7 linked regions of the Homo sapiens genome follow. The protein of the gene in region 3 purifies or fractionates together with the protein of the main gene of each other region. This does not show direct contact. Each region holds a gene or a part of one and is shown on either strand. Other genes may lie near its edges.

Region 1 (4,490 bases), on a different chromosome or scaffold from region 3:
ACAAATCTGATTCTATTACTCCCCTGCTCAAAATACTTCAATAGCTCCCCAGAGCAGAATCCAAATGCCTACCTTGCATACAGGCACTTCACAATCCGGCTCTGGCCTGCTTATAACCCTCTCTGTTCTCCCCTTCCTTCCCTTCCCTCTGTGTCCTTTTCAGGTCATACCTTTCTCAAATTCCTCTGCACTTTTCAACTTTTTTTTTTTTTTTTTTTTTTTTGAGTCGGAGTCTCCCTCTGTTGCCCAGGCTGGAGTGCAGTGGTGTGATCTCGGTTCACTGCAACCTCCGCCTCCCGGGTTCAAGGGATTCTCCTGCCTCAGCTTCCTGAGTAGCTGGGACTACAGGTACCTGCCACTATGCCTGCTAATTTTTTTATATTTTTAGTAGAGATGGGGTTTTGCTATGTTGGCCAGGCTGGTCTCGAACTCCTGACCTCAGGTGATCTGCCCACCTCAGCCTCCCAAAGTGCTGGGATTACAGGTGTGAGCTATCATGCCCAGCCAGACTTTTCAACTTTTTTATGCCACTTCCTCCACCTAAAGTTCTGTTTTCCCAGCTATTCCAGCCTCAGGTTGAGTCCTCGCATAAGGTTCCTAAGGTTTCCTAAGTTTCCCCCAAAAGGGAAAACCCAAAGGTTACATTATCCCCTACTGTAGGGAACAGTGTAAGGTGACCTAGCTGGTCAGAGGTGGCCTCCAGACTCTGTACTAAGAGGGCTGTTTGAAACCAGAACCCCCCCCCAGGTGCTGGTCCAGCAGTTCTGGTTCCCCCAGCCTCTGCTTCAGAAGCCTTGTCATCCTGATGTCCACATGTCATCTCAGTCCAGCAGCCCAAGGCCCAACAGCTATTCTCAATTCTTCTGTGACTCTGACTCAAAGATCAGACCTTCTGTAAATGATGCAGTTCCACGACTGCTCCCGGCAGTCCCTGGACCACCACAAAAGGCCATTTGGGACTAGAAAAAGACCTTGCTTGTACATCCAGAGACTGGGTTTTGACTTCACTCTGGCTCTAACTCATTGTGTGAGACTGGGCAAATCACTTCCTCTCCCAGGGCCTCAGATGTGTCATATTTAACATAGGAAGCAGGGCCAGCTTAGTGTAGGAGCATCTATGATGCTACTTCCTAATTCCTACAACTAAAATATATATTAGAGAAACAGTCTTATTTAACTACTTTCTGAGTAGAATACATTAAGCTTTTGCCCTGGGTACTAACTGAGGCAAAGAAGAAAACCCTTCTGGCTACACAGAGGTACATGCAGATGGATGCTAACAAGATCAAATACAATCGCATGCATTTGCTAAGGTTGCTAAGATATTCAAATACACAAAGATACTTGTGCATGCTCACATGCACTTATGCACTCACACTCAGGAGAAAAGCCCTGGTGGCCAAATAGATGCTAAGAAAATATTTACATACACAGATCTACATACATTCACACAGATACATACTTGTACAAATATGCACACAGATATGCAAACACACATGCACACATTCACACACTCCATTTATATACCGACTTTCCTTTCTCATTCCTTAGTTTCTTCAGGTTTCATGTGACTTAATCTACTTTGGATAAATAACTTCATTTATCTATTGCTACAAGTTAAGCCAAAACCATGCAGTCTAGAAACAGACCCACTTACATGGTGATTTGATTGGACAAAGATACCACTGCAATGCAGCAAATAAAGGTTTTTTTTTCTTGCATTAAGGTTGTTGAGTCAACAGTATATTCATATGGGGAAAAAATGAACTTTAACCCCTACCAAATCCACACACAAAAAAATCAATTCCAGATGAATCATAAACCTAAATATGAAAGATAGAATAATAAAGCTTCTACAAGATAACAAATAGAAGGATATCTTCATGACCTAGAGACAATTTTTTTTTTTTTTTTCCTGAGACAGAGTCTCATCTCTGTCACCCAGGCTGGAGTGCAGCGGCTCAATCTCAGCTCACTGCAACCTCCGCCTCCTGGGTTGTTCAAGTAATTCTCCTGTCTCAGCCTCCCGAGTAGCTGGGATTACAGGCATGCACCACCATGCCTGGCTAATTTTTGTATTTTTAGTAGAGACAGGGTTTCACCATGTTGGCAAGGCTGGTCTCGAACTCCTGACCTCAGGTGATCCACCTGCCTTGGCCTCCCAAAGTGCTGGGATTATAGGCAGGAGCCACCGCACCTGGCCTGACAGACAAAGATTTCTTAAACTGAACACAGAAAGCACTAACCATAAAGGGAAAGATTGATAAGTCAGACTTCATCAAAATTAGGAACTTCTGTTCAGGCCAGGTACAGTGGCTCACACCTGTAATACTAGCACTTTGGGAGGCCAAGGTAGGAGGATCACTTGAGCCCAGGAGTTTGAGACCATCCTGGGCAACATAGGGAGACCTTCCTCTCTACAGAAAAACTAAAAATTAGCCAGGTGGCCGGGCCCGGTGGCTCACGCCTGTAATCCCAGCACTTTGGGAGGCCGAGGCGAGCAGATCACCTGAGGTAGGGAGTTCGAGACCAGCCTGACCAACATGGAGAAACCCAGTCTCTACTAAAAATACAAAATTGTCCAGGCGTGGTGGCGCATGCCTGAAATCCCAGCTACTCGGAAGACTGAGGCAGGAGAATTGCTTGAACCTGGGAGGCAGAGGTTGTGGTGAGCTGAAATCGTGCCATTGCACTCCAGCCTGGGCAACGATAGCAAAACTCCATCACACACACACAAAAAAAAACCAAAAAAAAATTAGCCAGGCATGGTAGCATGTTCCTGTACTCCCAGCTACTTGGGAGGCTGACATGGGAGGAGTCCTTGAACCCAGGAGGTCAAGGCTGCAGTGAGCCATGATCCCTGAAGACTAGAGCCACTGAACTCCAGCCTGGGTAACAGAGTGAGATCCTATCTCAAAAATAAAAAAGAAAGAAAAAAATTTTAAAAAGAAAGAAAAGAAGAAAATATAAACTATAAAAAAAGAACTTCTGTTCAAAATATACTATTAAGAGAGTAAAAAGGCAAGCCATAGTGTGGGAGAAGATGTTTGGGATAGATATAACCAACAAAAGACTCATATCCAAAACATATACAAAACTCCTATAAATCAACAAGAAAAAGACAACCGGCCGGGCACCATGGCTTACACCTGTAATCCCAGTACTCTGGGAGGCCGAGGCAGGTGGATCACCTGAGGTCAGGAGTTTGAGACCAGCCTGGCCAACATGGCGAAACCCTGTCTCTACTAAAAACCTCAAAATTAGCCGGGCACGGTGGCACACACCTGTAATCCCAGCTACTCAGGAGGCTGAGGCAGGAGAATCACTTGAACCCGGGAAGTGTAGGTTGCAGGGAGTGAAGATTGCGCCATTGCACTCCAGCCTGAGCAACAAGAGTGAAACTCTGTCTCAAAAAAAGAAAAAGAAAAAGACAACCTAATTTTCTAAAATGGACAAAATTAGAGCAGTCTAAAGAGGATATCCAAATGGCCAGTAGGCACATGAAAAGGTGCTCAACTTCATTCATCATCAGGGAAACACAAATCAAAACCACAGTGACCAGCCTGGCCAACATGGTGAAATCCCATCTCTACAAAAAATACAAAAATTAGCTGGGTGTGGTGGTGCGCACCTGTAATCCCAGCTACTTGGGAGGTTGAGGCACAAGAATCGCTTGAACCCAGGAGGCGGGGTTGCAGTGAGCCAAGATCGCACCACTGCACTCCAGCCTTGGCAACAGAGTGAGACCTTGTCTCAAAAAAAAAAAACAAAAAAACCCACAATGAAATGGTACTGAACGCTCACCAGAGTAGGCCAAAACCAAAACAAAGCCTGGTGTGGTGGCTCATTCCTGTAATCCCAGCACTTTGAGAGGCCGAGGCAGGCAGATCACCTGAGGTCAGGAGTTTGAGATCAGCCTGGCCAATATGGTGAAACACCGTCTCTACTAGAAACACAAAAATTAGCCAGGCATGGTGGCGGGCGCCTGTAATCCCAGCTACTCGGGAGGCTAAGGCAGGAGAATCGCTTGAACCCAGGAGGCAGAGGTTGCAGTGAGCCAAGATCATGCCATTTCTCTCCAGCCTGGGCAACATAGACTCTGTCTCAAAAAAAGAAAAAACAAAACAAAACCAAAACCTGACAATAACAAGTGTTGGGGAGGACACAGGGTAACTGGCAGTCTCCTACACAGCTGCCTAGAGTGGAAACTGGCACAACGACTTTGGAAAGCTGTCAGACAGTACTGCTAACGCTGAGCCCAGGAGGTACCCCACTTCCAGGTATATACCCAACAGAAACATGCACATATGTCTGTACACATGTACACTAAGAGATGCCTGCAAGACTGATCAAAGTGACACTGTTTGTAATAAACAAAAACTATGAACAACCCAAATGTTCATCAACGGTAGAGAGGATACATAAATTGCAACATACTTGTACGTTAAAATACTGTAGAGGAATAAACCATTCTGGATATATCTCGCAGA
Region 2 (3,304 bases), on a different chromosome or scaffold from region 3:
TTCTTCTTCTTTGGTGCATTACTCTCTCTGTTTTTTTTCTTTCCATTTTATGCTTTGATCTTTCAGCCATTATCCAGCTGTCTTGGATTTTACCTTTCGTTCTTAAAACGCCCTCCAATAAACATCAATTATTTTCTTCTTCTTCTTCTTTTTTTATTTCAATAATTTATTTTTCTTTTTTTTAATTATACATTAAGTTTTAGGGTACATGTGCACAATGTGCAGGTTTGTTACATGTATATACATGTGCCATGTTGGTGTGCTGCACCCATTAAGTTGTCATTTATATTAGGTATATCTCCCAATGCTATCCCTCCCCCCTCCCCCCACCCCACAACAGGCCCTGGTGTGTGGTGTTCCCCTTCCTGTTTCCAGGTGTTCTCATGGTTCAATTCCCACCTATGAGTGAGAACATGCAGTGTTTGGTTTGTTGTCCTTGTGATAGTTTGCTGATAATGATGGTTTCCAGCTTCATCCGTGTCCCTACAAAGGACACGAACTCATCATTTTTTATGGCTGCATAGTATTCCATGGTGTATATGGGCCACGTTTTCTTAATCCAGTCTATCATTATTGGACATTTGGGTTGGTTCCAAGTCTTTGCTATTGTGAATAGTGTTCCAATAAGCATACGTGTGCATGTGTCTTTATAGCAGCATGATTTATAATCCTTTGAGTATACACCCACTAATGGGATGGCTGGGTTAAATGGTATTTCTAGTTCTAGATCCTTGAGGAACTGCCACACTGACTTCCACAGTGGTTGAACTTGTTTACGGTCCCACCAACAGTGTAAAAGTGTTCCTATTTCTCCATATCCTTTCCAGCACCTCTTGTTTCCTGACTTTTTAATGATCGCCATTCTAACTGGTGTGAGATGGTATCTCATTGTGGTTTTGATTTGCATTTCTCTGATGGCCAGTGATGATGAGCATTTTTTCATGTGTCTGTTGGCTGCATAAATGTCTTCTTTTGAGAAGTGTCTGTTCACATCCTTTGCCCACTTGTTGATGGGGTTGTTTGATTTTTTCTTGTAAATTTGTTTGAGTTCTTTGTAGATTCTGGATATTAGCCCTTTGTCAGATGAGTAGATTGCAAAAATTTTCTCCCATTCTGTAGGTTGCCTGTTCACTCTGATGGTAGTTTCTTTTGCTGTGCAGAAGCTCTTTAGTTTAATTAGATCCCATTTGTCAATTTTGGCTTTCAATTATTTTCTTCTTAAAGTATAGAACTAAAGAAAATGACCTTTTGAGTTTTGGAAATGATTTTTTTTTTTTTTTTGAGATGGAGTCTTGCTCTGTCCCCCAGGCTGGAGTGCAGTGGCATGATCTCAGCTCACTGCAAGCTCCGCCTCCTGGGTTCATGCCATTCTCCTTCCTCAGCCTCCCGAGTAGCTGGGACTACAGGTGCCTGCCACGACGCTTGGCTAATTTTTTGTATTTTTAGTAGAGACGGGCTTTCACTGTGTTAGCCAGGATGGTCTCGATCTCCTGACCTCGTGATCCACCCACCTCGGCTTCCCAAAGTGCTGGGATTGCAGGCGTGAGCCACTGCGCCCAGCCGCATCTCTCTCATTTTTTAAAACAGCTAAAATGGATGCATTCACTACCTATGACCCTAGGGCATGGCTCAGAGTTAGTTCAAATTCCCATTAAAAAAAAAAAGTAACTTTAGCTTTAATTTAATTTTCTAAATCTGATGCCATTCCTAGTACATGAATATTCTGGATTTCCTCGTAGAGAAATTACAATAAGCATTCAAGAAATATGTGTAAAAAGCTTTCTAATTTTATATTCATTTCACTATTGTGTATGCAACATCATGATCCAGGCATTTGTTTCTATAAATCTACTCTCTAACTTAAGGTTGGGTGCGGTGGCTCACACCTTTAATCCCAGCACTTTGGGAGGCTGAGGCTGGCACATCACTTGAAGCCAGGAGTTTGAGACCAGCTTGGCCAACATGATGAAACCCTGTCTCTACTACAAATACAAAAGAAAATTTAGCTGGGCATGGTGGAGTGTGCCTGTAATCCCAGCTACTCGAGAGGCTGAGGCACGAGAATTGCTTGAACCCAGGAGGCAGAGGTTGCAATGAGCGACGATCACACTATTACACTCCAGCCCGGGTGACAGAACAAGATTGTCTAAAAAAAACCCAAACAAACAAACAAACAAACAAAAAACTACTCTCTAACTTAAAATGAAAAAACAGAACCCTGTCCTCATAAATTTCAGTGCACATGGAACACTGTTATAGGCTGGGGAGGAGGAGGACACAGCTGGGTGGCTGCTGGGTCTCCTGAGTCACATACCAAAAACTTCTGGGCCATCTTTGATGTTCCACCCAGACTGCTTTGAAGCTGGGCTTATCATAACACCTTATGTTTTCAATTGAGCCAGGTCTTTTACAGTTGGAAATAAATAAAAATAATTTCTTTTCATTTTTGTCCTTCAGATTGAAAAACAACTCAACTCAGAGTCACTGTCACAGTGGACTAATCCCAGCACCATGGCCAATGCCAAGGTCAAACTCTCCATTCCAAAATTTAAGGTGGAAAAGATGATTGATCCCAAGGCTTGTCTGGAAAATCTAGGGCTGAAACATATCTTCAGTGAAGACACATCTGATTTCTCTGGAATGTCAGAGACCAAGGGAGTGGCCCTATCAAATGTTATCCACAAAGTGTGCTTAGAAATAACTGAAGATGGTGGGGATTCCATAGAGGTGCCAGGAGCACGGATCCTGCAGCACAAGGATGAATTGAATGCTGACCATCCCTTTATTTACATCATCAGGCACAACAAAACTCGAAACATTATTTTCTTTGGCAAATTCTGTTCTCCTTAAGTGGCATAGCCCATGTTAAGTCCTCCCTGACTTTTCTGTGGATGCCGATTTCTGTAAACTCTGCATCCAGAGATTCATTTTCTAGATACAATAAATTGCTAATGTTGCTGGATCAGGAAGCCGCCAGTACTTGTCATATGTAGCCTTCACACAGATAGACCTTTTTTTTTTTTCCAATTCTATCTTTTGTTTCCTTTTTTCCCATAAGACAATGACATACGCTTTTAATGAAAAGGAATCACGTTAGAGGAAAAATATTTATTCATTATTTGTCAAATTGTCCGGGGTAGTTGGCAGAAATACAGTCTTCCACAAAGAAAATTCCTATAAGGAAGATTTGGAAGCTCTTCTTCCCAGCACTATGCTTTCCTTCTTTGGGATAGAGAATGTTCCAGACATTCTCGCTTCCCTGAAAGACTGAAGAAAGTGTAGTGCATGGGACCCACGAAACTGC
Region 3 (4,490 bases):
AGAGAAACAGCGTGCACTCAGATTTTTAGAAGAAATCTGGAGAGGACGTGAGAGAGAGAAACGGCGCACACTCAGATTTTTAGAAGAAGAAATCTGGAGAGGATGTGTGAGAGAGAAACAGCGCGCACTCAGATTTTTAGAAGAAATCTGGAGAGGATGTGAGAGAGAGAAACAGGGCGCACTCAGATTTTTAGAAGAAGAAATCTGAAGAGGACGTGAGAGAGAGAAACAGCGCGCACTCAGATTTTTAGAAGAAGAAATCTGGAGAGGACGTAAGAGAGAGAAACAGCGCGCGCTCAGATTTTTAGAAGAAATCTGGAGAGGACATAAGAGGGAGAAACAGCGCGCACTCAGATTTTTAGAAGAAATCTGGAGAGGACGTGAGAGAGAGAAACAGCGCGCACTCAGATTTTTAGAAGAAATCTGGAGAGGACGTGAGAGAGAGAAACAGCGCGCACTCAGATTTTTAGAAGAAGAAGTCTGGAGAGGACGTGAGAGAGAGAAACAGCGCGCACTCAGATTTTTAGAAGAAGAAATCTGGAGAGGACGTGAGAGGGAGAAACAGCGCGCACTCAGATTTTTAGAGGAAGAAATCTGGAGAGGACGTGAGAGAGAGAAACAGCGCGCACTCAGATTTTTAGAAGAAATCTGGAGAGGATGTGAGAGAGAGAAACAGCGCGCACTCAGATTTTTAGAAGAAGAAATCTGGAGAGGACGTGAGAGAGAGAAACAGCGCGCACTCAGATTTTTAGAAGAAATCTGGAGAGGATGTGAGAGAGAGAAACAGCGCGCACTCAGATTTTTAGAAGAAGAAATCTGGAGAGGATGTGAGAGAGAGAAACAGTGCGCACTCAGATTTTTAGAAGGAGAAATCTGGAGAGGAGATATGGGGTCAGTAAAAGGTTTTTAAAGGATGGGAGCTTTCAGCGCCTGTTTGCACGCTGGCGAGAATAACTCACTGGAAAGAAGAGACTGATGCTGCAGAATGGAGAAGAGATGATCAAAGGAGCTGCAGAGCTGAGGGGATCAGATGGAGGCATCTCCCTGGGGAGAGCTGAGGGGAACGGATGGAGGCATCTCCATGGGGAGAGCTGAGGGGGTCAGATGGAGGCATCTCCACGGGGAGAGCTGAGGGGATGGGATGGAGGCATCTCCATGGGGAGAGCTGAGGGGAACGGATGGAGGCATCTCCATGGCAAGAGCTGAGGGGATGGGATGGAGGCATCTCCATGCGGAGAGCTGAGGGGAACGGATGGAGGCATCTCCATGGGGAGAGCTGAGGGGGTCGGATGGAGGCATCTCCCTGGCGAGAGCTGAGGGGAACGGATAGAGGCATCTCCATGGGGAGAGCTGAGGGGGTCAGATGGAGGCATCTCCATGCAGAGAGCTGAGGGGGTCGGATGGAGGCATCTCCATGGGGAGAGCTGAGGGGGTCGGATGGAGGCATCTCCATGGGGAGAGCTGAGGGGGTCGGATAGAGGCATCTCCATGTGGAGAGCAGAATAAGCACAGATCCACCAGCAGTGGTTCCAGGGCAGCCTGAGGTTGTGGTAAGGCACAAATGCTAAGTCTAGACAAGCAGTCTACACAGGTGGCAGTGAAGACATCGGTCCTTGGCTGAGGTCAACCCAACAGCGAAAGGACGTGGTTCTGACATTAAGAACCTGGACCCTGTTGCTTAGTCTCCTCCCACACACACTTAATGCCATCCCTCTCAGGCCCATGGTGACATAAATGTAGAAATGGGACTCACATCATCCAACAATTTGCTTCCCTCTGGATCCATCTTAGAAAGTTCTCGAAATGCTTCATCCCCGACAAAGCAAATTTCATGTCCGTCCTACACCAATAAAGAGAAAAGACACCTGCCAAAGACATCCTTGAAGAAACCCCTGGTCCAGCCTGCCCCCTGCCTGAGAAATACTTACAGGGTCGGCCAGAATGACCACCTGTACTGTTGCTTTCCCTGGGGTGTCCAGGCTCACCAGGGGAGTCAGAATCTTCTGGTTCTCCCTTTTCATCAAGTCTTCTAAGTCTGGCAACTTGAGGAAAACAGAGGCAACGTGAGCCAGGGGTCACACACTACTCAGGACACGGCCCTCGTCAGTCCTAGAGGAGTATCAGATACCATAAAGAACCAAGGCGCCATTTGTTTGAATTTATTATCTCAGCTGCTCTTGAAACAACTGCTGAACTTGATACTAAAGCCACAATCAAAAAGGACCTCAAGAAGGGAAGGACAAAGTTCTTAGCTGGGTTGAACTAGCTAGTCAGAAAGCTCAAACGATCTGGTATCAAGCGTTACCTCTTTCTGGGGGCAAGAGAAGGCAATTCTTCCAAAAGCTGCTGCATGGTCCACCCCACCCTTGACGCCCTGTAGCTCCAGCTTACACTGAAATAGGAAAGGGGGTTATTTTTTGGAACAGGTTATACATTCATTACACGTATGTGGTAGAAAAATTCAAATATTATATACTAAAGGAATAAAGTAAAAACTGAGTCTCTATCCTACTCTCACCCCAGAGACAACTAGTCCACACTTTCCTGTGTATCCTTCTAGAAGCACTGCACGCATCTATGTTTTTTTTTTTACACAAATGGTGGTATAATTTACAAATTATTCTGTTCCTTGTTTTTCTCCACTTAATGTTACCATGTCAATACATAAAGATTTGCCTCAATCTTTTTGCTAGCGACATAGTAATCCATTCCATGAATGAGCCGTAAATTACTGAAATATGTCTCTAATCTATAGGACACTGAAATTCTTACACATTGTGATTACAGACAATGCTGCAGCAGATAACCTTGCACACACTTCTTTGTGCCGATGTATGTTGAGCACATCTGTAAAATAATTCCTAGGAGTAGAATTGCAGGGTCAAAGTGCAAGGACTAAATCGTGCTCAAACGCTGGGTTATTAGAAAAAGAAGATGAAAAAGATCTTGCATTAAATCCATTCAATCTCTTGGATTAAGCAATTCCACTTCTGAAGAGATATATCCCCAAATATAAACAAGGTAATATCTGGGTGGTAAGGTTATCACTTATTTTCTTCTGTTTATCTATATAAATATTGAATCACTGTGAAGAAACTATGGGAACAACCTTCATGTTAACTTCATTTATAAAGGTTATAAGCCATTTATAAGCTTCGTTTACAAGCCAAATTCAAAGTAACAGGTTATTCTTCTCCAAGATTGCTCACCTGGTTATCAGCATAGCCCAGCAAAGCCCTTTGCTTTTCTTCATCTTTTTCATAAATTTTCATTCCCAGTAGATTACACCAGTAGTTCAAGGACTTTTGAAGATCAGACACTGCTAGAGTTACTTTTAATACAGGATCTGTTGGGTAATAAAGCAGGAATAGACAGATCAATTTAATAGAATAAAATAGAAAGACCAAAACATGCGCATGTATACTTACAAATTCAGTTTATGATAAGAAAGGGATTTTAAGCCAGTATGAAGCTGGGTGCAGCGGCCCATGCCTGTAATGCCAGCACTTTGGGAGACTGAGGTAGGAGGATTGCGTGAGCCTAGGAATTCAAGACCAATGCAGGTAAAACACTGAGACCTTGCCTGTATGAAAACTTTAAAAAAATTGGCTGGGTGTGGTGGCTGATGCCTGTAATCCCAGCACTTTGGGAGGCCAAGGCAAGTGGATTACCTGAGGTCAGGAGTTTGAGACCAGCCTGGCCAACATGGCAAAACCCTGTCTCTACTAAAAATAAAAAATAAAAAAAATTAGCTGGGCGTGGTGGCGCACGCCTGTAATCCCAGCTACTCGGGAGGCTGAGACAGGAGAATTGCTTGAACCTGGGAGGCGGAGGTTGCAGTGAGCCGAGATGGCGCCGTTGCACTCTAGCCTGGGAGACAAGAGCAAAACTCTGTCTCAAAAAAAAAAAAAAAAAAAAAAAAGATTAGACAGGCGTGGTGGCTCATGTGTGTATTCCCAGCCACTTCAGAGATGGAAGCAGGAGGATCGCTTGAGCCCGGGAGGTTGAGGCTGCAGTGAGCCAAGACTGCACTACTGCACTCCAGCCTGGGTGACAGTGAGACCCTATCTCGAAAAAAAAAAAAAAAAAAAAAACAAAGACAGTATGAAAAGCCTCATTATTCAATGGACGGCGCTAAGAAGACTGGCTAATCATTTGGTAAGAAAAACTTACATCTTCGAAATAAATGACAAAATACATTCCTGATGGGTTAAAAAAATAAGTTTAGAGAATGAAACCATGAAAATACTAGATACAGATGATTATTTATACAATTTTGGAGTAGAGGAAGATTTTTCTTTAAACCTGACACCAAAGATAGAAAAACTATGAAGAAAAAACTTCTGCTACATAAATTACACAAAATGGAAAACTCCTAGACAACAACCAAGAAAAGGAATTACAATCAAAACTAGAGTATACAACACAGTAGGGGGAACAACTGCAATATATTGGACAAAAAGTCCTTAATATGTAAATCACCTGTAAAT
Region 4 (4,412 bases), on a different chromosome or scaffold from region 3:
TAAGCCACCGTTTCAAACCTGCCCTGTGGAGGAAATGCCAGTTTATTAAATAACGAGTAAGCCACCGTTTCAAGCCTGCCCTGTGGAGGAAATGCCAGTTTATTAAATAACGAGTAAGCCACCGTTTCAGACCTGCCCTGTGGTGGAAATGCCAGTTTATTAAATAACGAGTAAGCCACTGTTTCAAACCTGCCCTGTGGAGGAAATGCCAGTTTATTAACGAGTAAGTCACTGTTTCAAACCTGTCCTGTGGAGGAAATGCCAGTTTATTAACGAATAAGCCACCGTTTCAAACCTGCCCTGTGAAGGAAATGCCAGTTTATTAAATAAGGAGTAAGCCACCGTTTCAAGCCTGCCCTGTGGAGGAAATGCCCGTTTATTAAATAACGAGTAAGCCACCGTTTCAAGCCTGCCCTGTGGAGGAAATGCCCGTTTATTAAATAAGGAGTAAGCCACCATTTCAAGCCTGCCCTGTGGAGGAAATGCCAGTTTATTAAATAACGAGTAAGCCACCGTTTCAAGCCTGCCCTGTGGAGGAAATGCCAGTTTATTAAATAACGAGTAAGCCACCATTTCAAACCTGCCCTGTGGAGGAAATGCCAGTTTATTAACGAGTAAGTCACCGTTTCAAACCTGCCCTGTGGAGGAAATGCCAGTTTAGTAACGAGTAAGTCACCGTTTTAAGCCTGTCCTGTGGAGGAAATGCCAGTTTATTAACGAGTAAGCCACCGTTTCAAACCTGCCCTGTGGAGGAAGTGCCAGTTTATTAAATAATGAGTAAGTCACCGTTTCAAGCCTGCCCTGTGGAGGAAATGCCAGTTTATTAAATAACGAGTAAGTCACCGTTTCATACCTGCCCTGTGGAGGAAATGCCAGTTTATTAACGAGTAAGCCACCGTTTCAGACCTGCCCTGTGGAGGAAAATGCCAGTTTATTAACAAGTAAGTCACTGTTTCAGACCTGCCCTGTGGATGAAATGCCAGTTTATTAATGAGTAAGTCACCATTTCAGACCTGCGCTGTGGAGGAAATGCCAGTTTATTAAATAAGGAGTAAGCCACCATTTCAGACCTGTCCTGTGGTTTGGAAAAGGTATTATAGAGCCTGCCCTGTGGTCACTTGTTCTTCAGATGAACTGATTTTTGTGCAGAGCGCACGTGTTGGATTCTGCCTGGTAAGAGTTTTTCCCATATGATAGCAAAAAACGACGGAAAGGGAAGCTTGGGATGCAAATGCAAGTTCAGGATAAACCACATCAGCAAAAGGACAAAGGCTCCACAAGGCAGGCGCACAGGCTGGTTCAGGACCGTGTGTAGGCGGCTGGTGGCAGCCTTTCCAGTCAGCTGAACATGGTGAATGGGAAAATCATTTTTATTCACCATGAAATTTTACTGATTTACCCTCCACTAGAATATGCTGATGGCTGTGATCACTGCTCAGAACTTGCTCTTGTCTCCTTGTATGTATTAAGAGTTTCCTGCAAAGTATATGAATCCGTGTTTGCCAGAATACAGAATAATAGTAAATTTATTATTTTTATTTTTATTTTTTTGAGAAGGAATCTCACTGTCCCCCAGGCTGGAGTGCAGTGGCGTGATCTCAGCTCACTGCAACCTCTGCCTCCCGGGTTCAAGTGATTCTCCTGCCTCAGCCTCCCAAGCAGCTGGGATTACAGACACACTGCCACCATGCCTAATTTTGTATTTTCAGTAGAGATGGGGTTTCACCATATTGGCCGGGCTGGTCTCGAACTCCTGACCTCAAGTGAACCACCCACCTCGGCCTCCCAAAGTGCTAGGGTTACAGGCATGAGCCACTGTGCCTGGCCAGTGCATAAATTTAGTTGGTCACAGTCAGTTTTAATTAGAATAGAAGCCAGGTGCAGTGCCTCACACCTGTAATCCCAGCATTTGGGAGGCTGAGGCAGGCCAATGACTTGAGCCCCAGAGTTGTAGACCAGCCTGGGCAACATGGCGAAACGTGTCTCTACAAAAACATAAAAAATGAGCCAGGTGTGGTGGTAGCACAGGAGGCTGAGGCAGGAGGATTGATTGAGCCTGGGAAGTCAAGGCTCCGGCAAGCTGTGATCACACCACTGCACTCCAGCCCAGGTGACATAGCCAGACCCTGTCTCAAAAAAAAAATTTTTTTTTAATAAAAACAGGCTGAAAGAAAAGATTGAGGTAGTCTCCCAGCACATGGAGCAAAAAGACAAAGTATTTGATAAACTCTTAGGTACATAAAGGATGCTTAAGGGAACATGCGGACATGGATTACTGTGGACTCACTGCTGGCTGCACACCCCCTGGCCAGCCATGCGGCCTCCGTGGGTTCTGAACATGTTGATGGTGCCAACCTCCTGGGCTGAAGTGGAAATGGAATGAGTTCTAGGGCATCTGTCTCTTAGATCATGTTAATGTCTGCTGTGTTTTTTCTGTATTGCTCTGTTAGAGTAATAAGAAACGTGATGGTGTTTCTGGCCTCAGGTGCGGATTGATGAGTACGATTACTCCAAGCCCATCCAGGGGCAACAGAAGAAGCCCTTTGAGGAGCACTGGAGGAAGCACACCCTGTCCTATGTGGACGTTGGCACTGGGAAGGTCAGTGTGGAGCTCGTTCTCACCACAGCCCAGCACCCACACGGCCCCGCCCAGGCCTGCGGGCTGGCCTTGCTGATGGTGAACGGGGAAGAGCAGGCCAGATTTAAATCAACTCCCGACAGATTCGAGGCACCGCTGAAAAAGGCACTCCGACAGCAGTCGGGCTTCGGGCTGGAAACAGAATCCAGTTCCTGCAGGTGGTTCAGAGGAGCCTTAAGGAAGGGTTGCTCCGTGGTGTGCGCCAGATGGACGTCACTGGGCAGGAGCAAGTGTCCAAGGCCTGGTGGTAGGGGAGGAGATGATGATTGTGGACCTAGCGAGAAAGCATCTGTGGGGTGGGGACACACAGCCATTACCAGAAACCAGTCCCACGTTAAGGGAGCCCAGAAGAGACACCTCCCCTCTCCTCCCACGGGCTGGGCCAACTGGAAGCGTCTGCAGGGGAGCTGAGGGGATGTGGTGCAGCCTTTAGCATCCCCTGGGCACTGAGCAAGCAGAGAAGGGCAGAAATGGAGGTGGGGTTGGGGTGAGCAGTGTCCTGGGAACAGCCAGCCGAGGGTGTGGTAGGGGGTCGCAGCCTTTTTCCACACACGGTGAGCAGCGTCCTGGGAACAGCCAGCCGAGGGTGTGGTAGGGGGGTCGCAGCCTTGTTCCACACAAGCACAGTTCACCTGTGTGGCATTTCCGCTGGGCATTAAGATTCAGAAATAATGAAGATAGAAAGCTTTTACCCTTAAACTTTTCATAGCTTGTAAGAGTCGTATAATCACTTAGCTGTGTCTGTGGAAGTTACCTTTGGACTCTCACTATCATCTAGTGTGTCTGTGATTCAGGCAGTAGGTCATTTTCAGGACTTCTCATGAAGGCCATTTCTTGATAGTGTATAGAAATCACACTTCACTCGCTTAGCACAAGTCTATTTTTAATGTTTCCGGGTTCGGGTTTTTTGGTTTTTTTTTGTTTTTCTGAGATAGAGTCTCATCTCTGTTGCCCAGGCTGATATGTGTTGGCTTGATCTCGTCTCACTGCAGCCTCAACCTCCCCCAGGCTCAGGTGATCCTCCCACCTCAGCTTCCTGGGCACATGGCACCATGCCTGGCTAATTTTTATATGTTTTGTAGAGATGGGGTTTCTCCACGTTGCCCAGGCTAGTCTTGAACTCCTGCGCTCAAGTGATCCACCTGTCTTGGCCTCCCAACAGGCATGAACCAACACCCCCAGCCAGTTTTAGTGATTTTTCAAGAAATACATACTCATTTTAGAAAGTACAAAGAGATTGAAATAAGAGCTCACTAACCAGAGACGACCCATTATGGTTTAAATTTCTTTGTATATGTGCCTACCTTTTCCTGTGTGTGCATATTTAATACACAGCTTGAGTATTCCTTCTCTGAAATCCTTGGGACCAGAAGCGTTGTGGATTTCAGGCTTGTTCAGACTTTGGAATATTTGCATTATACTTACTGTCTGAGCATCCCTAATCGGAAGATCTGACTCCATAGCACATTTCTTTTGAATGTCATGCTGGTGCTCAGAAAGTTTCAGATTTTAGAGAATTTCAGATTTTTGGATTAGGGATGTTCAACCTATATAAATATTTACTTTGAAGTAGAAAAACTGGAAGTAGATGGTTTAAACATAAAGTGTCTTGGTATAGACAAGGGTTCTCCCACTTTACATGATGGGAGCATTTTTGTAAAGCACTGAGAATCTTAAAGTTCACATGCCATAAATCTACTTTTATAGTTAAAATTTTTCAAAAGGAACACAAGAGATGGCTTTTTGTACATTTTTGTGCTTAACTTACCACTGA
Region 5 (4,490 bases), on a different chromosome or scaffold from region 3:
TGATAAAAAATTCAAAGTTAAAATAATTCTTTCCATCAAAATATTTACTTCCAAATTTTTGTCATGGATACTACTTAACCCTAACATTTATATTCTGGAGTTTTTTCTCTACTGTTGGGATCAATTTTGAGAAAAAAGTACAACTTAACCTCTAAGAGCTGCTTTGTGGATGGGTCATCTCTGAAGCAGTATTTCTGTCTGTTTTTATTCAGATTATCATCTTGAATATCCACACAGGGAAATAAACAATGCATAAAGTCACCTAAATAAATTTCATTTGTTCTCACATTTTCTCTCCTTTTTAGTCTGTGACACTGCATACAGATGTAGGTGATATTAAAATTGAAGTCTTCTGTGAGAGGACACCCAAAACATGTGAGGTAAGTACTATTATTTACATATTCAACATCAGTTAATACAACAAGATAAGCACTTTGGAATTGAATAATCTAACCTAAATAACAACAACAAAACTTTCTGTAAAACCATTGTTAGGGAAAACTAGCCATCCTAACTTCTGGCCTGATTTCCACTTATTTGTCCAATGTCAAAGGTGGATCAAAGAGAACGTAGATAATTTTTCGGTAACGATAGAGTAGCCAGTATCTTTTTCTTTTGAACTAATTTTCTTCAGGAAACGTAATCATTAGGACATTATATTACTTTTTTCTTTCTTTTTTTTTATTTATTTATTATTATTTTTTTTTGAGATGGAGTCTCGCTGTGTCCCCCAGGCTGGAGTACAATGGCGCGATCTCGGCTCACTGCAACCTCCGCCTCCTGGGTTCAAGCAAGTCTTCTGCCTCAGCCTCCCGAGTAAGTGGGATTACAGGCGTGCGCCACCATGCCTGGCTAATTTTTGTATTTTTAGTAGAGACAGGGTTTCACCATGTTGGTCAGGCTGGTCTCAAACTTCTAACCTCAGGTGATCCATGCACCTCAGCCTCCCAAAGTGCTGGGATTACAAGCATGAGCCACTGCACCTGGCCTTTTTTTTTTTTTTTTTTTTCTCAAGACGGAGTCTTGCTCTGTCACCCAGGCTGGAGTGCAGTGGCATGATCTTGGCTCACTGCAACCTTCGCCTCTGGGGTTCAAACGATTCTCCTGCCTCAGCCTCCCAAGTACCTGGGATTACAGGCACCCACCACCATGCCCAGCTAATTTTTATATTTTTTTAGTAGAGACGGGGTTTCACCATGTTGACCAGGCTGGTCTCAAACTTCTGACCTCAGGTAACCCGCCTGCCTCAGCCTCCCAAAGTGTTGGGATTATAGGCATGAGCCTCCATGCCCGGCAGGATATTATATTAAAGAATTGTTGTATACTTTTTTTTTTTTTGAGACAGGGTCTTGCTCTGTCGCTCAGACTGGAGTGCAGTGGTGCAATCACGGCTCATTGCAGCCTCAACCTCCTGGGCTCAAGCAATCCTCCCACCTTGGCCTCCCAAGTAGATAGGACTACAGGCGTGTGCCACCATGCCAGGCTAATTTTTTTTAAATTTTTATGGAGACGAGATCTCACTATGTTGCCCAACTTGGTCTCGAACTCCTGGTCTCCAGCCATCGTCCCATCTCAGCTTCCTGAAGTATTGGAATTATAGGCGTGAGCCACCATGCCTGGCCTGTTCTATACATTATTTCGCCTGTTTATTTTTATTTATTTATTTATTTATTTTGAGACAGAGTTTTGCTCTTGTTGCCCAGGCTGGAGTGCAGTGGCCCAATCTTGGGTCACTGCAACCTCCGCCACCCAGGTCCAAGGGATTCTCCTGCCTCAGCCTCCCAAGTAGCTGGGACTATAGGCGCCAGCCACCATGCCCAGCTAATTTTGTATTTTTAGTAGAGATGGGGTTTCACCATGTTGATCAGGCTGGTCTCAAACTCCTGACCTCAGGTGATCCACCCGTCTTGGCTGCCCAAAGTGCTGCCCAAAGCCACTGCACCCGGCCTGTGTCACCTGTTTAAATGACAAGGATGGAAGGAAGAAGAGTCACCTGTATATATTCATTTATTCAGCAATTATTTATGGCTGGGCATGGTGGCTCACATCTATAATTCCAGCACTTTGGGAGGCTAAGGTGAGCTCAGAAGTTCTAGGCTTACCTAGGCAATATAGTGAGACCCCCATCTCTACAAAACAATACAAAAATTAGCCAGATGTTGTGGTGTGACCCTGTTGTCCCAGCTACAAGGGAGGCCAAGGTGGGAGAATTGCTTGAGCCTAGGAGGTCAAGACTGTAGTGAGCTCTGATCACACTGCTGCACTCCAGCCTAGGTGACAGAGCAAGACCCTGTCTCAAAACGAAACAAGAAACCCATTATTCGTGAAAGGCTATCTTGCCCCAGAGTCTGGAGATACAGTGATGAGCAACAGACATTCCTTACCCTCATGGAGCCAATATTTTAGTTGTAAAAATAAGCAGGGCAGGAAAATTAAGTAATTATATTTTTAAGAAATTATTTTCATTTATTTATTTTTTTTTTAAAGATAGAGATGAGGTCTTACTATGTTGCCCAGGCTGGTCTTGAACTCCTGGACTCAAGTGATCTTCCTGCCTCCCAAAGTGCTGAGATTACAGGTGTGAGCTGCTGTGCCTGGCCTAAAATTAAGTAATTCTAAAAGATGATAATGCCTTGAAAAAAATTAAGTGTTGAGATAGAGAATAATGGGAAAGGAAGAAGGTGAGGGCAGGTGTAGCCAATAAACTAATACTTAAATTAAATGCAAAGGTATGAGGGCATCTCCATGGAAAGAGGTATAGAAAGAATATTCCAGGTATTCAGATTCAGAAAAGGTTGTGAAATAAAATTTTAAAAAATTCCAAGACCAGGCACGGTGGCTCACACCTGTAATTCCAGCACTTCGGGTGGCTGAGGCAGGAGAATCATTTGAGCTCAGGAGTTCAAGACCAGCCTGGGCAACATAGGGAGACACTGTCTCTACAAAAAAAAAAAAAAAAAAAAAAGAACATTCCAGATATAGAAATCTCAGGTACAGAGTACCCCAGGTAAGAAAAGCTGCCCCTTTTGGATTAATTGTCAGAATGCTGATGGAGTTTAGGTAGTAAGCAACAAGAAAGCAGTTCTTAGTATATGTGATGAGGAGATGAGCCAGGTACTGCAGGGCTTGTTAGGCCCTGCTGAAGATTTTCTTTTTGTTTTTGGTTGTTTTTTTTTTTTTTTGAGACGGAGTCTCTGTCGCCCGGGCTGGAGTGCAGTGGTGCGATCTCGGCTCACTGCAACCTCCGCCTCCCAAGTTCACGCCATTCTCCTCCCTCAGCCTCCAGAGTAGTTGGAGGCGCCTGCCACCACACCCAGCTAATTTTTTGTATTTTTAGTAGAGATGGGGTTTCACCATAGCCAGGATGGTCTCGATCTTCTGACCTCGTGATCCACCCACCTCGGCCTCCCAAAGTGCTGGGATTACCGGCGTTAGCCACCATGCCCGGCGAAAGATTTTGTATTTTATTTCAAGAGGAGAAGGAAGCTATTGAAGTGTTGTAGGCAGGGAAATGACATCCAAAGTAATGACAACAGTCATAGTTTAAATATGCTGCTATCACGTTTTCAGTAAATATGATTGGTTTTTTGTCTTAACTGGGTTTCTGCTGCATCATTTCTCAATCATTTTTACTCCCTTCAGAATTTCTTGGCTCTTTGTGCCAGTAATTACTACAATGGCTGTATATTTCATAGGAATATCAAGGGTTTCATGGTTCAAACAGGAGATCCAACAGGTAAGTTATTCCATTAACCAAGATCTAAGGAACTGAATGTATAGTATGAAGAAGTGGGTAAAAGAAGAGGAATTAAATACGTGGAGTTTTTGTTTTGTTTTGTTTTGTTTAATAAGTTCTGTTCTACAAGTACAGAACATGCAGGTTTGTTACATAGGTATATGTGTGCCATGGTGGTTTGCTGCACCTATCAGCCTGTCCTCTAGGTTTTAAGCCCAGCATGCATTAGCTATTCGTCCTAATGCTCTCCCTCCCCTTGCCCCCACCCACAACTAGCCCTGCTGTGTGTTGTTCCCCTCCTTGTGTCCATGTGATCTCATTGTTCAACTCCCACTTATGAGTGAGAATATGCGGTGTTTGGTTTTCTGTTCCTGTGTTAGTTTGCTGAGAATGATGGCTTCCAGCCATCCATGTCCCTGCAAAGGACATGATCTCATCCTTTTTATGGCTGCATAGTATTACATGGTGCAATTTTAAAGCAGAAATTATTAGCACCTACCCCTAAAATGTGAACAATATTGTGCTCACTTTGGCAGCACATATACTAAAATTTGAACAATACAGAGAAGATTAGTGTGGCCCCTGCACAAGGATGAGACACAAATTTGTGAAGCTTTTCATACTTAAATATATATGAACAATATTTATAAGGAGGGTTATTCTTTTTTGTTTTTTGTAGGTCTGTTTTAATCTTCAGGTCTGTGAAGTTAAATTTGGGGAATTAGGAAAGGCCATATCAAATTTTATCTATATT
Region 6 (4,490 bases), on a different chromosome or scaffold from region 3:
CAAGGCGGGCGGATCACAAGGCCAGGAGATCGAGACCGTCTTGCTAACACGGTGAAACCCCGTCTCTACTAAAAATTTTTAAAAAATGAATAAATAAATTTACAAAAAAAAGCAAAATATACACTCAGCAAACGTTTATTAAACATTTCCAGTGTGCCACATGGTATGTCAAGCAAAGCCCAAAGCCTATGTATCAAGACACTTCTCAGCTAGGTGTGGTGGCTCATGCCTGTAATCCCAGCACTTTGGGAGGCCAAGGCAGGAGGATTACTTGAGGCCAGGAATTCAAGACCAGCCTGGGCAACATAGTGAAGCCTCATCCTTACAAAAAATTTTTTAAAATTAGCTGGACATGGTGGCTCATGCCTGTAGTCCCAGCTACTTGGGAGGCTGAGGCAGGAAAATCACTTGAGACCAGGAGTTGGAGGATATTATAGTATGCTATGATCACGCCACCGCATTTCAGCCTGGGCAACAGAGCAAGGCTCTGTCAATCAATCAATCAATCAATCTCCCAACCATCTGTAATTTGTAATATAGTGAGATATAAATCTTTATTTCCTAATAGACAAATATTTCAACTCCATTTGCTGAATTCCTTTCCCACTGAATGACAATGCTATTTTTGTTATGAACTAAATTCCCTATAAATACATGGGTCAAACTCTAAACTCTATTATATTCCACTAATCTATTTGCCCAACCTAAAGCAATATACACTGCATAACAGTGTTTCCCATCAGAGATGGACCACTTAAGATAATAACTGTGGTGCCTTAAGATTATAATGGAGGTGAAAAATTCCTATTGCCTAGAGATGTCTTGGTGATCCTGACTCTGTGCAGGCCTAGGCTACTATGTATATTTGTGACTTAATTTTTAAGAAAAAGTTAAAAAAATTTAAATAGAGAAAAGCTTATAGAATAAGAATATAAAGAACATATTTTTGTACATTTGTTCAATGTGTCTGTGTTTTAAGCTAAGTGTTATTACAAGAGTCAAAAAGTTAAAGTAAAAAGTTTAAAAAGTAAGCTAAGGTTAATTTATTATTGAAGAAAAATATTTTATAAATTATAAATTTCAATGTACAGTGTTTATAAAGCCTGCAGTAATAAACAGTAATGTCCTAGGTCTTCTCATTCACTCGCCACATACTAACTGACTCACCCAGAACAACTTTCAATCCTGCAAGCTCCATTTATGGTAAGTGCCCTATACAGGTGTACTATTTAAAAAATCTTCCATGCTTTAAAAAAAAAAAAGTCTTCCACGCTGTATTTTTTACCATATCTTTTATATGTTTAGATGCACAAATGCTTCCCACTATGTTACAACTGCCTGTAGTATTAAGTACAGTAACATGTTGGATAGGCTTGTAGTCTAGGAGTAATAGGCTGTACCATATAGCCTAGGTGTGTAGTAGGCTACACCACCTGGGTTTGTGTGAGTATACTCATATGATGTTTGCACAAACAATGAAATCACCTAAGGATGCATTTCTTAGAATGTATTCTCATCATTAAGTGCCATATGACTACACCACATTGTTTGAATTACTATAGCCTTAAGATATGTTTTGGGTCAGGCACAGTGGCTCACACCTGTAATCCCAGCACTTTGGGAGGCCGAGGAGGGCGGATCACCTGAGGTCAGGAGTTCGAGACCAGCCTGGCCAACATGATGAAACCCCATCTCTACTAAAAATATAAAAAAAATTAGCCGAGTGTGGTGGTGGGTGCCTGTAATCCCAGCTACTCGGGAGGCTGAGGCAGGAGAATTGCTTGAACCCCGGAGATGGAGGTTGCAGTGAGCCGACATGATGCCACTGCACTCCAGAGTGAGGCTCAGTCTCAAAAAAAAAAAAGATGTTTTGATGTCTGGTAGAACAAATAACCTGCTGCCCACTATATACTGAAAATATTTTTTGGTTATTCTTGAGCTTTTTCTGATTCTAAAGCTCATAAATAAATCTGCAACTTTATAAACAGCCCTACTGAAATTTCTACTACAATCTTATGAATTTATAAATAAGTTAGAAGATACTGCTCTACTTCATGCAGGTCTCTGCTAATGTCACCTAGAGTGAGGCCTTCCCTTGTGCTCTATATGAGAGTGGCTCCCCTGGCACTTCCTACTTCCCTTAGTTTAGCTTTGTTTTTTTTTTTAGAGCTTCTCATCATCTGACATCTATATATTTTACTATATTTTTCCTGCCTTCTCTTCAACAACCCCCTCCCCCGCAATTTACCTAATAGGATATAAGCACCATAAAAGAGGGGACCTTAATTTGTTCATAGCTCTACCTGTAACTCCTAGAACACAAAGGACGAGCTAAAATGTTTATAAAATAAAAAAATCTTCAACAGTAAACATTCCAAACGAGGAATACAGTATTACAAGGAATACAGTATTACACTTTTTTTTTTTTTTTTTTTTTTTTTTTTTTTGAGACAGGGCCTGGCTCTGGTGCCCATGCTGGAGTGCAGGGGCAAGACTACAGCTCACTGCAACCTCTGCCTCCTGGACTCAAAGTGATCCTCTTGCCTCAGCCTCCTGAGTGCTGGGACTACAGGTGCATGTCACCATGCCTGGCTAATTTTTGTATTTTTTGTAGCGATGGGGTTTCGCATGTTGCCCACGCTGGTCTCGAACTCCTTGGCTTAAGTGATCCACCCACGTTGGCCTCCTGAAGTGCTGGGATTACAGGCGTAAGCCACTGCACCTGGCCCCTCTTTATTTAGGTCTGGTCTTTTGGTAAAGTTTGAGAGCTTTCTTAACACAGATTTTGTATTTCTAGTTTTATTCATATTTAAAAATTTTGGAAGAGATGGGGCCTCACTATGTTCCCCAGGCTGGTCTTGAACTGCTGGGCTCAAGAGATCCTCCTGACTCGGCCTACCAAAGTACCGAGATTATAGGCATGAGCCACCATGCCCGGCCTTCTTTACATTTTTGTTGGAATGCTATGATCTGCATATTTTGTGCTCATATGCAGCCACTTTTATCTTAGGCTAGAAACAGAAAAAAAAAGAAAACCCTTATTAAACTTGAGAAATGAGTACAGACTAGCCTTCATCTAGTTCAGGACTCCTACCATACCCACACCTTTTTACCTACTTTCTAGTCACAAAATAACTTTTCATCATTCTGAGCACACCACGTCCTTCCATGACTCCTTGCCTCTGATGTCATTCTGAGGCAGGGCTGAAATGAGAGACACCAGAGTGAGACCTTGCTTTAATTTATTTTGATGCCAAAGCTACCAAATTCTATTCTAAGAGAAGATCAGGCATGTAACAGTGTTTTTAAATTGCCGGCAGCAACCCATTAGTGGATCATGGCCATCATTTAAAAACGCTAATCTGAAGAATATCAGCACATATCACACAGAGTGAGGTCATTACTGCTTTATGAAACTTCTGTTACATGAACATATATGTGATGAAAAAAACTTATATGTCACTAAAACAAAATTGGAAATACACTGACATTTATAAAATGTATTGAGGAAGAGAAACTTGGCTTAAGTGTGTGGAGAGGGGAAGATGGAATAGGACGATGAGGGAAAGGAAGGAAGTAATAGCAACAAGGTTCTAAGAAGTGTTATTGAAGTGTGAGTCAGCAAAGACCTCAACTGGGCCAAAGCAGACAAGAGAAAGAGTTCTAAGGAAAATTTACACAGACTCTACCTCTATAAAATGACACTGAACTATTTGAAAAAAAGAAATCATATTTGCTTTTACCCATTTTATTCAATATCATTTTCCTGAGAAATATTAAACATTAAAACTTGGAATGTTTTGCTTTAAAGTTGCATCATAAATCATTCTTACCTTGCTCTCTCTTTCTAATTCACTTCGCAGCCATTCAAAGTCACTGTATCTTCTTCTAACAGTAGATTCTTTCAGCTTGAAAATAGGAAGATTTGTCTGAAACAAAAAAAGTTAGTCCTAAATTGAAGCACATTAAGGAAACTTCAAAAAAATGGGGGGACGGGTATGGCAAAACAAAAGAAATCATGACTTTCTTTTTCTTTTTTTGAGACAGAATCTCCCTTTGTTGCCTAGGCTGGAGTGCAATGGCACGATCTCGGCTCACTGCAAACTCCACCTCCCAGGTTCAAATGATTTTTCCGCCTCAGCCTCCCAAGTAGCTGGGATTACAGGCACCCACCATCATGCCCAGCTAATTTTTGTATTTTTGTAGAGATGGGGTTTTACCATGTTGCCCAGGCTGGTCTTGAACTCCTGACCTCAGGTGATCCGCCCGCCTCGGCCTCCCAAAGTGCTGGGATTACAGGCATGAGCCACGGCACCCGGCCGAAATCATGATGTTTTTAATATGACCTTTTACCCATAACAAAATAAAACTTTGCTAGTTCTTTTTTTTTTTTTTTTTTTTTTTTTTTTGAGACAGAATCTCACTGTCGCCCAGGCAGTGATGTGATCTTGGCTCACTGCAACCTCCACCTCCTAGGGTCAAGTGATTCT
Region 7 (4,490 bases), on a different chromosome or scaffold from region 3:
AGATGGGCTCACCAGGCTGCTGGCTGGGCCTGTGCCTATGGCTCAGGTGTCCTTGTCCCAGTATTTGCCTCTAGATTCTCTGCAGGGGCCTGTGGGCTCTGGAGACGCACAGGACCTGAGCCCCAGGCTGTTCCCATCATCCTATGGGACCAGGGCCCTCCTGGGAGCCTACTGCATGATTCCTCTTTTGAGGGCCCTAGGGGCAGTAGGGTACAGAAGGTGGGATCTCTAGACTCACAGAGACCCAGGTTCCAATCCCAGGTCTGCCCTCAACACACTGGTGAACAGGCATCAGCCCAGGGCACCCCCCTGGGACCAAACCACATCACCCCATGCCTGGTCCCTCTGGAATTGGTGTTGAGGCAAACACAGGCACAGCCTCTGGCACTGCTAGACCTGGCTGGGTAGCTAAGTGGGGGGCAATTGCCTGACCTTGGCTTTGACAGGTTTATTCTCTCCAGACGGTCAGGAGGACAGGTGGACGTGTCCACAAATGTGTCTCATCCTCGCAACAGCTCTGAGGATTTCCTGGGGACTCCACCAGTGGCCGGGGCACCCAGCCCTCCTCCCCCAGCACTAGTTTGTTCTTGGCCAGTATAAGGTTTTGCACAGTTGACCTTATAAGCAGGGCTGACCCCAGCTGAGCCCGAGCAGCAGGGGGAGAAATCCACTGTGGTCAGCAGTGTGAGGGCAGTCACCTAGGAACAGCAGAGCAGGTCGGGGCTGGAGCTTGGGACTGCAGAATTCTGTGTGACATCAGAAGCTCCTGGGCCAGTTGTCACATGGAGTCCCAGGCCCCATTGGCAAGACCCAGAAATCTGCATTTTAACAAGTTGAGGGGGACAGTTCCACACTTGGGATTGAGGACCTCTCATGCCATCCTGAGGGTCCCTTTTCCCCCAGGACGAAGGCTGCCCTGTCTCTGCTTCTCTGAGATGCCTAGTTAAAAGGATATGACAAGGACGAGGGACAACAAGCAAGTGAACCTCCCTATCCCAGGAGACCTGACTGCAAGGCTGTGGGGACTTGGGGGAGGTGGGGCGGCCCTGAGAGTGCCTGGTCAGCTTCCAGACTGAGGCAGTTCCCCAGCCCGCTCAGGGCCAGGTGGACTGAGGTCACAATGAGGGATGTAGGTCTCAGCCTCTCAGCTAGAAGGCAGGTTGCAGTCAAATGTCACCTGGTGATGAATGGGAGGCAGCGATAGTTCTGGAGGTTGAGGGCAGTTGCAGGTGATTCCAAGGGGACTTGGGACACCCAGGTCCTGGCCCAGGACCAAGGACACCAGCCTCCCTAGCGCACCCTCCACGCTTCTTCCCCAGAACCTGCACTGGCTGCAAACACATCAAAAAAGAAAACATTTCAGGGCCAATTCATTTTTCTCAAAACATATATTTACCCCTCCTCTCAGTACATCTTTGAGCACCTTTCCCAGAATCTCAGGAATGTATAGACCCCCGCCCCACACTTCATACCCGCCCTAGGCCTTGGTGATGAGGCCCCTCACAGCTTGTGCAATGGCATCCCTGTCGATACCAAACATCTTCAGCAGCTCAGCCGGCTTCCCACTTCTTGGTACCCGGTTAACTGCCAGGTGGGTGACAGTGATGCCAGGCTCGCCCACTACTGCACTGGACACAGCCTCACCAATGCCACCTAGAAATGAAAGGAGGGGAGTCAGAAGACGAGGCCTCAGGGTGAGCAGTGGTGGGCCCAGCCCTCTGTCAGCCTTAGTCAAGGATGGAGGAGGCTGCATATGCACTGCCTTTCTCCACCTGTAGCCATGAGCCCATCACATAACTCATTGATTTTTTTTATTTTAAAGAGACAGACAGGTATCACCATGTTGCCCAGGCTGGTCTCCCAACTCCTGAGCTCAAGAAATCCGCTGTCCTCAGCCTCCCAAAGTGCTGGGATTGCAGGTGTGAGCCACCATGCACGGCCCAGAACTATTTTTATAAGCCCAAATATGGCCTCTAAATGTTTGTTTCAAACACCATTGTTGGTGACCAGCCAGCCACTGTCCATAGTCCAATTATCTACATTTGACCCCAGAGTCAAAGCCCATCTCTCCCACTGGGGCCTCCTACTTAGAGAGGCTGGTGTGTACTTAGGGAGCCTGCTGTGTGAAGGACTCACAAATACCAGAAATTCTGCATTGCTTCCCAAGCTGCACCATAGCTTCCACCCTACACTACCTCAGGGACGCCACCATCCACCATTTAGCAGCGAGGTTGGAATCCTCACCAGCTTCCTGGGCAGCAGGAGCTCCACAGAGCTCATCAGCAGCTGTGAGTTAGCTAGGTCCCCAGGCCAAGCCTGAGGCCTTTTAAGAGACCACGTCCCAGCTGCTCTGAGGGACAGCTCTGGGTGTTCTGGGCCACAGCTGCCCTCCTGGGGCTCAGATAGAAGAGGCACGTCCAACGCTCGGCTCTCTGGCCCTGTCCCTTGCCCAGCCTGCCTGCCCCAGGCCTCCTTACCTTCATAATAATGGTCCTCCACGGTGAGGATCCTGCCCTTGGTGGCACGAGCGCTGTCGAGAATGAGTTTTCTGTCCAGGGGCTTGATGGTGAAGGGGTCCAGCACGCGGATGTTGATCTTTTCTGTGAGGGAGAGCACACGGCGTGGCTGAGGGGAGGGCTGGGCACCACTATCTGCCCTGGTGGGGGCCTGGTGGGACATCCTGAGGGCTGCGTGTAGCTAAGAGCTCAGCCTGCGGGCCTGTCCCTGTCCCAGGGAGAACCACTTGCCACCTCGTTCCCATGGCTGAGCTCATGCTTGCCAACCCCTTGCACTGGGGCATCTGGTCCAGCTGTGTTGCCCGCAGTATCCAAGAACCCAGAGCGGAGCGTGCAGGCCCTGAGCGCCTTCCCTCATCCTCCCACAACCTTGAAGACAAAGGGAATGCGAGAGAAAACACCCCAGGTGTCTGGCCTGATGGAAGGTGAGGCTTGATGTGGTGACGTTGGGGAGCTGCAGCCCGCAGAGTGATCAGAGGCCCACGTGCGGCCCCAGCAGCAGAGGCACCTTCTCAGAAGGACAAACCCACGCTTGCCAGGCCCTGCTTAAAGCTCACCCCCCTGGGTCTCCCCCTGCCTGGGGATGGACTCCTCTGGCTCCTCCAGCCCCATCTTGCTCCTGCCTGACCCTCCTCCGGCCTCCCTTCACTCTCCTCTCTGCTAATCAATTCCTACCCACTCTGAAGCCACTTTCTGGAAGATGCCACACCTGCCCCCTCTTTCGTGCTAAAACATGACATCTGCTGTGTGATTCTATTGCAGGAGAGGCCAATGCCTGTCTCCCCTACAAACCACTAGCCAACACTGTGAGCTCGCAGTAATAATAATAGAATACCAAGTCACATGCATGTAACCCTCAGGAGAGCTCTGAGGGCAAGGGGCTAGTATCTCCATTTTACAGATAGGAAAACAGGCATGGTGACAGTGAATAACTTACTTCCTTAACTAGTGCCTGGCTGAGTGATTCCAGCCCAGCTGGCAGGCTCCAGGCCACTGATCTGGCCACCATGCTGGGGGGGTCTCGACTTTAGAGTCATAGGGTAGGGACTGTGGGCACTGCAGCCCCAGGACTTAGCAACATGCCAGACAGAACAAGTGCTCAAAGGATGGCTATAATTGCTATCATTATTTAATGAAATGAAATGCTTTCTCTCTAGCTGTGAGCTCTTCAAGAAAGAACAGAAAGAACGAAAGAAAGAACCCCAAGACCTAGCATGCAGTGGCCGCTCAGTTGATGACTTTGGAGGCCCCTTCTCCTCACCTTTCTTCAGCAGTTCGGCAGCGGCCAAGGCCTCGTGCAGGGTCACCCCAGCCCCGATAACGGTCACCTGGTCATCCTTGCTCTTCAGGACCACCTGGGGGTGACACAGAGGGTGAGTAAGGCTCAGGGCCCTGGGGCAGGGTGTGCCCTGACTGCTGGGAGTCACAGCAGGGAGGGTCCAGGCAGCTCTGTGGGCTCCTGGGGCATGCGAGGCACTGACCTTGGCTTGTCCGACCTGGAAGTCCTCATTGTTGTTATAGATGATGGCATTTTCTGGGCGGCTGGTCCGGATGAAGCAGATACCCTGAGACCGAAACAGATAAACTGAGGATACAGGATGTGGCACACCCAACCTCAGAGACGAGGTCTTTCTAGAGAGGCCATCCCTTCCCATGGGAGCGTTAGTTACTGCATCCTGGCTACTCCAGCAGGGAAAAGGGCCTTGCTTGCCCTCTGCCGCCCGCACCCCACTTGAACACTCTGAGAACTGCCCACCACCTTGCAGCCTCAGACCGAAGGCAACTTTCCACCAGGTAGACTGGCTGCAGGTGGGCTACTCCCACAGACTGCACCAGGCAGAGGGGCAGGAACCACGCGCACTGGGTCTGTGGCATGCAGCTCCGGGCCTGGACCACAGGGCTCAGCTCATCCTTGCCTGTCTTGGAGAACCCAACTCAGGAGGGTGGAGAGGTGTCAACCGCTGGACCGGCCAG

The links.
Region 1: the proteins of GLOD4 (region 3) and FKBP1B fractionate together in Homo sapiens (co-fractionation; one large-scale study listed by BioGRID). This does not show direct contact.
Region 2: the proteins of GLOD4 (region 3) and SERPINB5 fractionate together in Homo sapiens (co-fractionation; one large-scale study listed by BioGRID). This does not show direct contact.
Region 4: the proteins of GLOD4 (region 3) and SDHA fractionate together in Homo sapiens (co-fractionation; one large-scale study listed by BioGRID). This does not show direct contact.
Region 5: the proteins of GLOD4 (region 3) and PPIL3 fractionate together in Homo sapiens (co-fractionation; one large-scale study listed by BioGRID). This does not show direct contact.
Region 6: the proteins of GLOD4 (region 3) and SNX3 fractionate together in Homo sapiens (co-fractionation; one large-scale study listed by BioGRID). This does not show direct contact.
Region 7: the proteins of GLOD4 (region 3) and TKT fractionate together in Homo sapiens (co-fractionation; one large-scale study listed by BioGRID). This does not show direct contact.

The regions. Positions count from the first base shown.
Region 1 is NC_000002.12:24,055,628-24,060,117, reverse strand, and holds part of FKBP1B (peptidyl-prolyl cis-trans isomerase FKBP1B), read right to left. Parts: intron 1-4,490. UniProt on the Homo sapiens protein: Has the potential to contribute to the immunosuppressive and toxic effects of FK506 and rapamycin. PPIases accelerate the folding of proteins. It catalyzes the cis-trans isomerization of proline imidic peptide bonds in oligopeptides.
Region 2 is NC_000018.10:63,500,873-63,504,176, forward strand, and holds part of SERPINB5 (serpin B5), read left to right. Parts: intron 1-2,457; coding exon 2,458-2,850; 3' UTR 2,851-3,304. UniProt on the Homo sapiens protein: Tumor suppressor. It blocks the growth, invasion, and metastatic properties of mammary tumors.
Region 3 is NC_000017.11:768,116-772,605, forward strand, and holds part of GLOD4 (glyoxalase domain-containing protein 4), read right to left. Parts: intron 3,347-4,490; coding exon 3,210-3,346; intron 2,393-3,209; coding exon 2,306-2,392; intron 2,043-2,305; coding exon 1,929-2,042; intron 1,841-1,928; coding exon 1,754-1,840; intron 1-1,753.
Region 4 is NC_000005.10:251,908-256,319, forward strand, and holds part of SDHA (succinate dehydrogenase [ubiquinone] flavoprotein subunit, mitochondrial), read left to right. Parts: intron 1-2,485; coding exon 2,486-2,599; intron 2,600-4,412. UniProt on the Homo sapiens protein: Flavoprotein (FP) subunit of succinate dehydrogenase (SDH) that is involved in complex II of the mitochondrial electron transport chain and is responsible for transferring electrons from succinate to ubiquinone (coenzyme Q).
Region 5 is NC_000002.12:200,881,588-200,886,077, reverse strand, and holds part of PPIL3 (peptidyl-prolyl cis-trans isomerase-like 3), read left to right. Parts: intron 1-305; coding exon 306-380; intron 381-710; coding exon of another isoform or gene 711-816; intron 817-3,642; coding exon 3,643-3,736; intron 3,737-4,490. UniProt on the Homo sapiens protein: PPIases accelerate the folding of proteins. It catalyzes the cis-trans isomerization of proline imidic peptide bonds in oligopeptides. May be involved in pre-mRNA splicing.
Region 6 is NC_000006.12:108,219,117-108,223,606, forward strand, and holds part of SNX3 (sorting nexin-3), read right to left. Parts: intron 3,930-4,490; coding exon 3,834-3,929; intron 1-3,833. UniProt on the Homo sapiens protein: Phosphoinositide-binding protein required for multivesicular body formation. Specifically binds phosphatidylinositol 3-phosphate (PtdIns(P3)).
Region 7 is NC_000003.12:53,224,279-53,228,768, forward strand, and holds the end of TKT (transketolase), read right to left. Parts: intron 4,082-4,490; coding exon 3,998-4,081; intron 3,872-3,997; coding exon 3,778-3,871; intron 2,601-3,777; coding exon 2,478-2,600; intron 1,654-2,477; coding exon 1,478-1,653; 3' UTR 434-1,477; downstream 1-433. UniProt on the Homo sapiens protein: Catalyzes the transfer of a two-carbon ketol group from a ketose donor to an aldose acceptor, via a covalent intermediate with the cofactor thiamine pyrophosphate.